Linked DNA regions of Homo sapiens: region 2 is linked to region 1. The links come from fine-mapping of genetic effects on gene expression. A gene starts in region 1. The other region holds a variant in brackets. All regions are shown on one strand. Distances are between the middles of the regions.

Region 1 (5,371 bases):
CAGGAGCAAAGGACAGAAGTCAAGTTTGGAGTCTATGCATTACAGGGGCCCGTTTTGGCACAGCCGGTCCCTGGACACTCACAAAGGTCTTCCTCACCCACCCACCTCACCCACCTTCCTGAGCCCGAACCAAGCTGCTCTGGCAGTCCCAGACCGCCCATGTTGGTCCCGCCCCCAACTCACCGTGATCATAAGACAATAGTTCTCCTTGCAGGCCCCGCAGCAGCCCACAAAAGCCACCAGGAAGAGGAAGACACCCACTGCGATGATGACCACTGGCAACAGAGAGCCAGGGGTAGCCCCCTGGATTATGGTCTGACTCAGGACAAGCTGTGCCCCGACACCCACGGCAATCAGTCCCACTGCACAGGCCTAAGAGAAAATCAGGTGAGGATTAGGCCATATCCACAACACAGTGGCCCTCCATGGTGGAGGGCAGGGGGTACACCTAGGACACAGACTTGACCCCATCCGGAAGAGAGATTCTCACACCTCTAGGGAATTTCTTTGGCTGTGGGGTAGGGGGATGACCCATCCTTGCCTGCCCCTACCTCCCCTGATCCCCTCCCGGCTCTTTAATCAGGGACATGACCAAATTCAAAAACCTCCCAGAAAGCCTTGACCTCAAGACACGTATTTCTGACCTAGAATAATGCTTTCTACAGGCCTCCAGGGCTCCCAGCTCAATTCTCTCCCAGAACTGCCCCCTCACTATCCTCCAGTGCACATCCCACGCGCGCATCAGCTGTGACTAAGGTTCCTCTGGCCAGTTAGGCCAGGAGAAGGGAAGAGGAAAAGGGAGCAAGAGTGATGTGTCCCTCCCTAGACAAACAGTAGCCTCTCAAGCCAGGAGCCCAGGGCAGGAGCAAATTGAAGTGGGCAGAGCCCTTCCTCACCCCCAAGCGCTGGGAGGAGGGAAAGGGGGAGAGGGGCTGGACAGGGATGAGAGGGTTGGGGAGGGAGAGAGGGGAGAAGGGAGAGCGAAGGGAAGCCCCATGGCGATAGCATCAGGCGGTTGGCTGGTTGCCCCACTGCCCCATATCACAAGTGGTTGGGTCACCAGACAGGAAGGGCCAGGAGGGATGGGGGTAGGGGTTGCTGCACACCCAGGATGGCCATTCTCGGTGGAAACAAGCCTCAGGTGTCCAGGAAAACTGGAGGAGGGAGTGGCTGCGCTGTCTTTCCCTGGCTTTCTTTCCACATCTGGTCTCCAGCTGCCTTAATTCTCATTCCCTCAGCCCTCACCACTGTGGAGCCAGGTCTCCCCGCACCCTGCCGGCGCGCCCCCCAGGACCCCTCGCCACTCACGCAAAAGGCCAGCAGGAGGACGTAGAGCAAGAACTTCACACATTTCATTCCTCCTTCCACCGCCATGGCTGCCGGGCCTGGGGCAGAGGGGAGGGCGGGGGGATTAAAACTGGCCGAAGGGGGACCTCGGTTTCCGGGCTCCCGGCCGGCCCTCGAGGGCTTCCCTTCACGGCCCCGATTCCCGGCCCCTCCCACCCGGAAACCCGCGGTCGGATCCACGTCTCCCAGCCCCCTCTTTACCCGCAGGAGAGGGGTGGGGGCGACGGCCGCGAAGCCCGGACCCCGCCCCGCCGCCTCTGGGGCCCAGGACAGATCCAAGGGCGCCGGCAGGGGCTTGAGCCTGACGCCGACCCTCGGCCCGCCAGTCTCCGGGCGTCAAACACCCTTTCCCCACCCAACACCCAGCCTGGAGAAACGGTCTTCAGCCCAACCCCGACCCCCGCCCCAGCCCCTTTCCCCTGGGCTCTGACCTCCCCGCCCACCAAAAAAAAAAAAAGTGCAGCCAGCACCCCCGCCACACCCTGCCCGGGCCCAGGGAACTTCGAAGCAAAGTTGCTCCAGGGCGGCTGGAGAGCGCCGGACGAGTCTCCGCGGGCCTGGGGCGAGCCCTGGAGGAAGGGACTGCGGGTGGTCTCTCCCAGCCCGCGCCGAAGTCCGCCGGGTCCCCGCGGCCTCACCTGGGCTTCCCAAGGCTGGCTGCGCGTTCCTCTCCCGCCGCGGCTCCGGGGCTCTCTAGCTGCGCCCCCCGGCTCCCGCCCCGCCTGCCGCGCGGCCCCGCCCCGGGCTCCAGCCACGGTCCCCTCCCCCGCCGAGTGGCCGCCGGCCTCCCTCATGTGACGCGGTAACAGCTGCGGCCTGAGTCACTGGGCCCGGCGCGGGGTGGGCCGAGCCCCCCGCCCGGCCAGGGCCACGTGGCCCCTACCCGGAAGAAGGCGCCCACCCCCGCAAAGGGAAAGCCGCAAGGGCAAGACCTCGGGGCGCCTGGGGCCCCCCTCTGGCGCTATACCTCCGTGCCAACTCGGGGTAGGAGAGCGGGGCGGAGCGCAGCCTGGGTCACTCTGGTTCAGAGAAGCGGACGAGGTGGGTGAGAGTTACCCTCTGAGCGCCGGGGCGGAGAGCTGAGGCCGGGTGACAATGTGGTCTGTGAGGTTTCCCCATCCTACCGTAGGGGATGAGCCAGCTCTCTCCTCTGGCTCCAACTCTGTGCAAGCCCCCTCCCCATCCGACTGTGCAGACAGCTGGGGACTGCCTGGGGTCGGGTGGGGCCAGAACAAACACTTCCAGAAAGTCCCTGGCTCACATCCTGGGTGTCTCCCAACATTCTACAGCATTCTAGAGTGGGGATTTCTGGCCCCCCTCTATTAGCACAGCTTCTCCATTTTCCAGGGATCCTAGTCTGAGAAAAGGGGAGGAAGCCCTTCCCCGAAGCCACGCTACCCAGTCAATCAAGACACGTCCGCGTCGGGTCCCGCCCTCTGGGGGAGGATTGACAAGGTCTGTGCTTCCAGCCTCCCAGACAGCTCCTGCATCCGTCTGTGATAGCGAGGGCTTGGGGGAAGACACGAAGGCAGGAGAGGCTTACATCCTCTGGATTTCCCCGTCTTATCCCAGAAGACAAAGCCAGGTGAGGGCTGGAAGCGGGCTAGGGGGATCAAGCTGCCTCCCTCCCTTGTGTGCCAGGGGTGGTCCCCAGAAGGAGCTGATCTGAACAGGCCGGAGAGTAGGACCGGCCGTCACACCCCCACACCTCCAGCCTCGGCCCCACTCCTTGGGCTCTTAAGGTCCTGCCTCAAGAACCACTTCCTGAGTCTTAGTGTATGTGTGTACACAAAGAATGAAAGAAGTCTCTAGAGCTAAAGGAAGGAGATCCGGGCTGGGCTGAGAAGCATCTTCCAGGATCACGGCCTTCCCGCGGGACACACCAAGCCCATTCCGGATCTTGCTCTTCCTGACCATGGCTGGCAGGCTGTGGAGGAGGAGCGGAGAGCAGAAGAAAGGAGTATTCATCAGGTTCCTTATTGTGCTGCCACTAGATGCCAGGCATGTGCTAGGCTTGGGGGCTGCAAGGAGAGGAAGACAGCGGCCCTGCCCTCTGCTAGCAGGCAGAACCGAGTTCTGGCCACACTGTGAAGAAAGGCAGAAGCCTGCGGTGGCAGCTGGTTAAGCTCAGAGGGAGGGAAAGGGAGAGGAGAATGGATTTCACGGAGCAGAAGGATGTGCTCAAGGTGACCTTGGAGAATAAAGGGGAGAGCTCCAGGGACAGAGAAGCAGTCGACTGTGGAAAAAAAAGGAGCATTTTGTAAAGTACATGGCAGGTTGGGGTTGGCTGGCTCAAAGGGCTTGGGACGGATGTGGTGAGATGGGCTGAAGGTGGTCTGAAGATCAAGATTGAGAGACTAGATACATAACAACCAACTGCAATGTTTGGTCCTTCATTGAATGGTTGAACAAACCAGCTGTGAAAGACATTTTGGGACATACAGACATGGACTGAGAATTAGACATAAGAAAATTATTTTGTTAACTGTTATCATGGTTAACAAAACGGTCATATAATATGATTATGTAGAGAAGTTACTCTAGTTTTTCCTCTTTTTTTTTCTTTATTCTCCTATCAGCCAATGCATTTGTTACAGGAAAGGGGTCCCAATCCAGACCACAAGAGAGGGTTCTTGGATCTCATGCAAGAAAGATTCAGGGCGAGTCGCAGTGCAAAGTATAAGCAAGTTTATTAAGAAAGTAAAGTGGTGAAACAACAGCTGCTCCATAGACAGAGTAGGATGTTCCCCAAAGTAAGAGGAGGGGCTAGGCGCAGTGGCTCACCACACCTGTAATCCCAGCATTTTGGGAGGCCTAGGCAGGTGGATCACCTGAGGTCAGGAGTTCGAGACCAGCCTGGCCAACACGGTGAAACCCCGTCTCTACTAAAAATACAAAAAGTAGCTGGGCACAATGATGTGTGCCTGTAGTCCCAGCTACTCAGGAGGCTGAGGCAGGAGAATCACTTGAACCCAGGAGGCAGAGGTTGCAGTGAGCAGAGATCGTGTTGCTGCATGCCATCCTGGGCAACAAGAGTGAAACTCCGTCTCTCTTTTTTTTTTTTTTTTTTTTGAGACGGAGTCTCGCTCTGTCACCAGGGTGGAGTGCAGTGGTGCCATCTTGGCTCACTGCAACCTCCGCCTCCCGTGTTCAAGTGATTCTCCTGCCTCAGCCTCCCAAGTAGCTGGGACTACAGGCACGCACCACTACGCCCAGCTAATTTTTGTGTTTTTAGTAGAGATGGGGTTTCACCATATTGGCCAGGATGGTCTCCATCTATTGACCTCGTGATCCGCCCCCTCAGCCTTCCAAAGTGCTGGGATTACAGGCGTGAGCCACTGTGCCCGGCAAAACTCTGTCTCAAAAAAAAAAAGTAAGAGGAGGAACACATTCACCCTCGGTATAATGCTTGTATATATGGAGAGATGTGCTCTGCTACAAAAGTTTGTGATAAAGGATTAATTTTCTTAATTACTGTATTTTGTAAGAATCGATATTATCTTTTTTATTATTATTAATTTGTTTCCTTAACCATAAACATCTAGGTTTTTTGTTTTTGTTTTTGTTTTTGAGATGGAGTTTTGCTCTTGTTGCCCAGGCTGGAGTGCAGTGGCACAACTCACCACAACCTCTGCCTCCCAGGTTCAAGAGATTCTCCTGCCTCAGCCTCCTGAGTAGCCGGGATTACAGGCATGCGCCACCATGCCTGGATAATTTTGTATTTTTAGTAGAGCCGATATTGTGCCATTGCACTCCAGCCTGGGCAACAGAGCGAGACTCTGTCTCAAAGAAAAAGAAAGAAAGATGAAAATGTTGTGGAGATGGATGGTGCTGATGGTTGCACAATGTGTATGTACTCAATGTCCCTGAATTTTATGTTATATATATTTTACTACACACATACACACAAAGAATGGCCCACTTCTACAGCCTGGAAAGTTGACACAGAGCTCCATGTGTTTGCTGGGGTGCAGGATAGAGGGGCCTCTTAGTGGGAAGTGGCTGATCTCAGACCTGGCCCTTC
Region 2 (5,372 bases), 52 kb before region 1:
CTAGGTTTTTGGTTGAGCAATCAAGAAGCTAATGGTGCCATTCACTGAGATGATGAAGAAGATGGGCAGAGTAAGACAAGAGACTTGGGGAGTACCGTAAGTGTCATTTTGGACATGTTAAGTTTTATATGTCCAGAAGATATGCTGAGGAGGAGGATCAAGTACACAACTGGGTATACAAATTTGAAACTCAAAGGAAGGATCTGCACTAAAGATATAAATGTGTGAATAATTTGCATATACATGGCATTTTAAACCATGAAAATGGATGGGATTTGGTGAAAATTATGTGTCAATGTAGGTTCATCAATTGTAATAAATGTCCACTCTGGTGGGGGATACTGATAATGAGGAAGGCTAGTCATGTGTGAGGACAAAGGGTATGTGGAAAATCTCTGTACTTTCCTCAACTTTTCTATGAAGCTAAAACTGCTCTAAAAAATAAAGTCTATATTAAAAAAAAAAAGATGAGGTTATTTAATGAGAGAATTTAGACAGAGAAAGACCCAAGACTAAACCCAAAGAAACAAAATTTAAAGGTCGAGTAGATGAGAAAGATCTAAAAAAAGAAGTTTCTAAGAAGTAACAGCCACGGGAATGTTATAGAAACAAGAAGACTGTTATGTTAGGACAGCCTAGATGAGAGAATTTTTCAAGAAGAAATAGTAGCCAACTATTTCTGAAGCTGTTGAAAAGTCAGATAAGATGAGAACAGGGAATATTCACTGGACCTGGCATGTGGAAATAATTAATAGGCTTGATAATAATAGTTTCGGGTTTCTTTGTTTTGTTTTGTTTTGTTTTTAGAGACAGGGTCTCTCTCTGTCTCCCAGGCTGGAGTACACTGACCCAGTCATGGTTCACTGTAACCCTGAACTTGCAGGCTCAAGCAATCCCCTTGCCTCTGCCTCCTAAGTAGCTGGGGCTACAGGCGCATGCCACCACACCCGGCTAATTGGCTAATTTTTTTATTTTTTGTAGAGAAAAACAACAGCCTATGTTGCCCAAGCTGGTCTCAAACTCCTGGGCTCAAGCAGTCATTTCCTCTCGGCCTCCCAAAGTACTTGGATTACAGGCACGAGCCACCACGCCCGCCCAAAGTCATAATTCTTGAGTCATCTGCTCGTGTTATCTTGGTTTCCTCACCTTCCATTCACTCTTTCTCCCACTCCAATCCATCACTAATAAAAATTTCTTGGGCTTGGCACAGTAGCTCACGCCTGTAATCCCAGCACTTTGGGAGACCAAGACAGGAGGATGGCTTGAGGCCAGGAGTTCAAGATCAGCCTGGGCAACCCTGAGAGATACCCTGTCTCTACAAAAATTTTTAAAAGTTAGTAGGCATGGTGGTATGCACCTATAGTCCTAGCTACTCAAGAGGCTGAAGCAGGAAGGGCAGCACAACCCCAGGAGTTTGAGGCTGCAGTGAGTCAGAATGGTGCACTCCAGCCTAGGCAACAGAGCAAGATCCTGCCAAAAAAAAAAGACTTTGACATAGATTTGTAAAATGGAGTTTTAGCTAAAGTGACATGTGGTGTCAAGAGGGTCAGTTTATTATTAACCTGAAATATATTAGAGCATATTCATATTTTGAAAGATCCATGGAAAGGCAGAGATTAATGATTTAGGAGAAAGAAAGATAAAATGAAGACAAGAATTCATAGCAGCATTGTTTATAGTACCCCAAAAGTGGAAACAACCCAAATGTCTATCAACTGTTGAATAAATAAACAAAATGTGGCATATCTGTACAATGCAATGCTACTTGGACGTAAAAGGAATGAAGTATTGATACATGCTACAACATGTGTAAACTTTGGAAGCATTATGCTGTGTGAAAAGCCAGTCACATAGGCCACATGTAGTATGATTCCAATTACATGAAATGTCAAGAATAAGTAAATCCATACAGACATAAGTAGAGTAGTGATTGCCTACGGAAAGGAAATTGATGGTACTGGGGTTGGGATGGGGATGGGGGAAATGGGAGTAAGTGGTAAAAGCACAAGTTTCTTTTGGGGTAACGAAAATGTTCTAAAATTGATTGTGGTGGCTGGTTGCACAACTCTGAATATACAGTCACATGTTAAGTCATATGTTGCTTAACAACAGGAATAAGTTCCGAGAAATGCATCGTTAGGTGATTTTACCATTACGGGAACATCATCATAGAGTGTCCTTACACAAGCTTGGATGGTGTAGCCTACTATACAGCTAGGCTATATGGC[G/A]TAACCTATTGCTCCTAGGCTGCAAGCCTGTACAGCATGTTACTGTACTCAATACTATAGGCAATTGTAACACCATGTTAAGTATTTATGTATCTAAACGTGGAAAAGGTGTGGTAAAAAATACAGTATAAAAGATTTAAAAACGGCATACCTATATAGGGCACATATCATGAATGGACTTTGCAGGACAAGAAGTTGCTCTGGGTGAGTCAGTGAGTGACTACACTAAATTTATTTACATTTTTTTTTTCTTTTCTTCAATAATAAACTAGCCTTAGCTTACTGCAACTTTTTTACTTTATAAACTTTTTAATTTTTTTAACTTTGACTCTTGTAATAACACTTAGCTTAAAACATAAATATTCTACAGCTGTACAAAAATATTTTATTTCTTTATATCCTTATTCTATAAGCTTTTTCTATTTTTTAAATTTTTTTAACTTTTTTGTTAAAAGCTAAGACACAAAGACACACATTAGCCTAGGTCTACACAAGGTCAGGATCATCAAGACATCACTACAGGACAGGGATTTTTCAGCTACATAATAATCTTATGGTACCTCCATCATATATGTGCTCTGTCATTGAGCTAAATGTGTTATGCAGCACATGGCTGTACAGTTGACCCTTGAACAACTCAGGACCTAGGGGACTGATACCCCTCACAATTGAAAATCTGTGTATCTGCAGGGTGGGGAACACCACACATTGGGGCCTGTCGTGGGGTGGGGTGGGGGGAAGGATAGCATTAGGAGATATACCTAATGTAAATGACCAGCTAATGGGTGCAGCACACCAACATGGTACATGTATACATATGTAACAAACCTGCACGTTGTGCACATGTACCCTAGAACTTAAAGTGTAATTAAAAAAAGAAAATTTAAAAAAATATATATGTGTGTCTGGCCAGGCATGGTGGCTCACGCCTGCAATCCCAGCACTTTCAGAGGCCGAGGAGGGTGGATCACGAGGTCAGGAGATCGAGACCATCCTCACTAACTCGGTGAAAACCCATCTCTACTAAAAATACAAAAAAAAATTAGCCGGGCGTGGTGGCGGGCGCCTGTAGTTCCAGCTACTCGGGAGGCTGAGACAGGAGAATGGCATGAACCCGGGAGGCAGAGCTTGCAGTGAGCAGAGATCATGCCACTGCACTCCAGCCTGGGTGACAGAGCAAGACTCCGTCTCAAAAAAAAGAAAAATTAGCTGGGCATGTTGGCATATACCTGTGGTGACCACTACTCAGGAGGCTAAGGTGGGAGGATTGCTTGAGCCTGAGAGGTTGAGGCTGCAGTGAGCTGTGATCGCACACTACACTCCAGCCTGAGTGACAGAGCAAGGCTATCTCAAAAATAAAAAATAAAATGAAAATTTCTAGAAAAGGAAATACAGAGGCTCTTAATTATAAGAAACAAAAATTCAACCTCACGCAGAAAAGAGTAAGTAAGCCGGGCACGGCAGCTCATACCTGTAATCCCAGCACTTTGGGAGGCCGAGGCTGGTGGATCACCTGAGGTCAGGAGTTCGAGACCAGCCTGGCCAACATGGTAAAACCCTGTCTCTACTAAAAATACAAAAATTAGCCAAGTGTGGTGGCATGCGCCTGTAATCCCAGCTACTCGGGAGGCTGAGGAGGGAGAATCGCTTGAATCCGGGAGTCGGAGGTTGCAGCAAGCCGAGATAGTGCCACTGCACTTCAGCCTGGGCGACAGAGTGAGACTCTGTCTCAGGAAAAAAAAAAAAAAAAAAGGAAAAGAAAAAGAAAAGAGCAAATAAAAAGCACAGGATAATACTACTTTGCCTCTTTCTGTGTCCATGGAGCAGGCCCAGGAGCAATTACTCCCCAGTGATAATCACATCCAGCATTCAGATCTTGGTTTTTAAATACCATCCTCCTCACAAAAGACCAGTGCTTCTTTGAGAAATAACTAAGTTCGGGGCTGGAGCAGGGGAAATACAAGATGAGCCTGGAACATCTTCTTGTAGCAGAAAGTAAGAAAATGCTCAAAGAGTGATGGAGTTGTGTCAAAAGGAGACAGGAGCCAGCTTGCAGGTGCTCCCCCAGCCAAATCTAGGGCAATTTGAACATCAAAATACACACCCAGGTATTCACCCAAGAGAAATAAAAGCATACGTCCACACAAACCCATGTACACAAACAGTTCATAGTAGCTTTATTTCTAACAGTCAGAAATTGGAAACAACCCAAACGTTTATCAACAAGTGAATGGATAAAAATATATGTGGTATATCCATACAATGGAATACTACTCAGAAATGGAAATGAACTGCGGATGCATGTACAACATGGATGACTCTCCAAATAAACATGCTGAATGAAATAAGCCAGATGCTGAAATCCCATACATTATAGGATTCCATTTACACAAAATTCCAGAAAATGCAAACTATTTGGGAGGCCAAGGTAGGCGGATCACCCGAGGTCAGGAGTTTGAGACCAGCCTGGTCAATATGGTGAAACACCGTCTCTACTAAAAATACAAAAATTAGCCGGGCATGGTGGTGCATGCTTGTAATCCCAGCTACTCAGGAGGCTGAGGCAGGAGAATCACTTGAACCTGGGAGGTGGAGGTTGCAATGAGCCAAGATCAAACAACTGCACTCCAGCCTGGGCCACAGAGTGAGACTCTGCCTGAGAAGAGAAGAGAAGAGAAATTAATCTATACTGACAGAGAGCAGATCAGCGGTTACCTGAAGATGGGGATGAAAGAGGGGCGAATGGATTACAAAGAAACACAAGGAAACTGATATAGTTTGGATGTTTGTCCCCTCCAAATCTCATGTTGAAATGTAATCCTCAATGTCAGAGGTGGGGCCTGGTGGGATGTGTTTGGCTCCTGAGGTCCCAACCCCTCATCAGTGGCTCAGTGCCAACCCCTTGGTGATGAGTGAGTTCTCGCTCTGGCAGTTCACGCAAGGTCTCTCTTGCTCCCTCTCTTGCCATGTGATACACTGCTCCCCTTCGTCTTCCACCATGATTGTAAGCTCCCTGAGACCCTCACCAGAGGCCAAGCAGATACTGGTGCCATGCTTCCTGTGCAGTCTGCAGAACTATGAACCAATTAAACTTTTTTTCTTTATAAATCAACCAGCCTTAGGTATTTCTTAACAGCAATGCAA

What was found. PIP is the estimated chance that this variant, and not a neighbour inherited with it, causes the effect.
Region 2: its variant is fine-mapped to the expression of CD63 in whole blood (GTEx, PIP above 0.99).

Annotation. Positions count from the first base shown.
Region 1 is chr12:55,726,968-55,732,338 of GRCh38, forward strand. It overlaps CD63 (CD63 molecule), which reads right to left and starts at 2,042. Exons shown (of 8, transcript NM_001780.6): 1 at 1,986-2,042; 2 at 1,309-1,385; 3 at 184-372. The coding sequence starts at 1,374. It overlaps CD63-AS1 (CD63 antisense RNA 1), which reads left to right and starts at 2,127. Exons shown (of 2, transcript NR_183514.1): 1 at 2,127-2,388; 2 at 2,695-3,885. RefSeq lists silencers at 1,439-1,738, 2,009-2,388 and an enhancer at 1,868-2,474.
Region 2 is chr12:55,674,762-55,680,133 of GRCh38, forward strand. No RefSeq gene overlaps it. Among named protein-coding and RNA genes, the nearest start is that of TMT1B, 4.3 kb to the right of the region's middle. The variant G/A (reference allele first, on the strand shown) is at 2,229.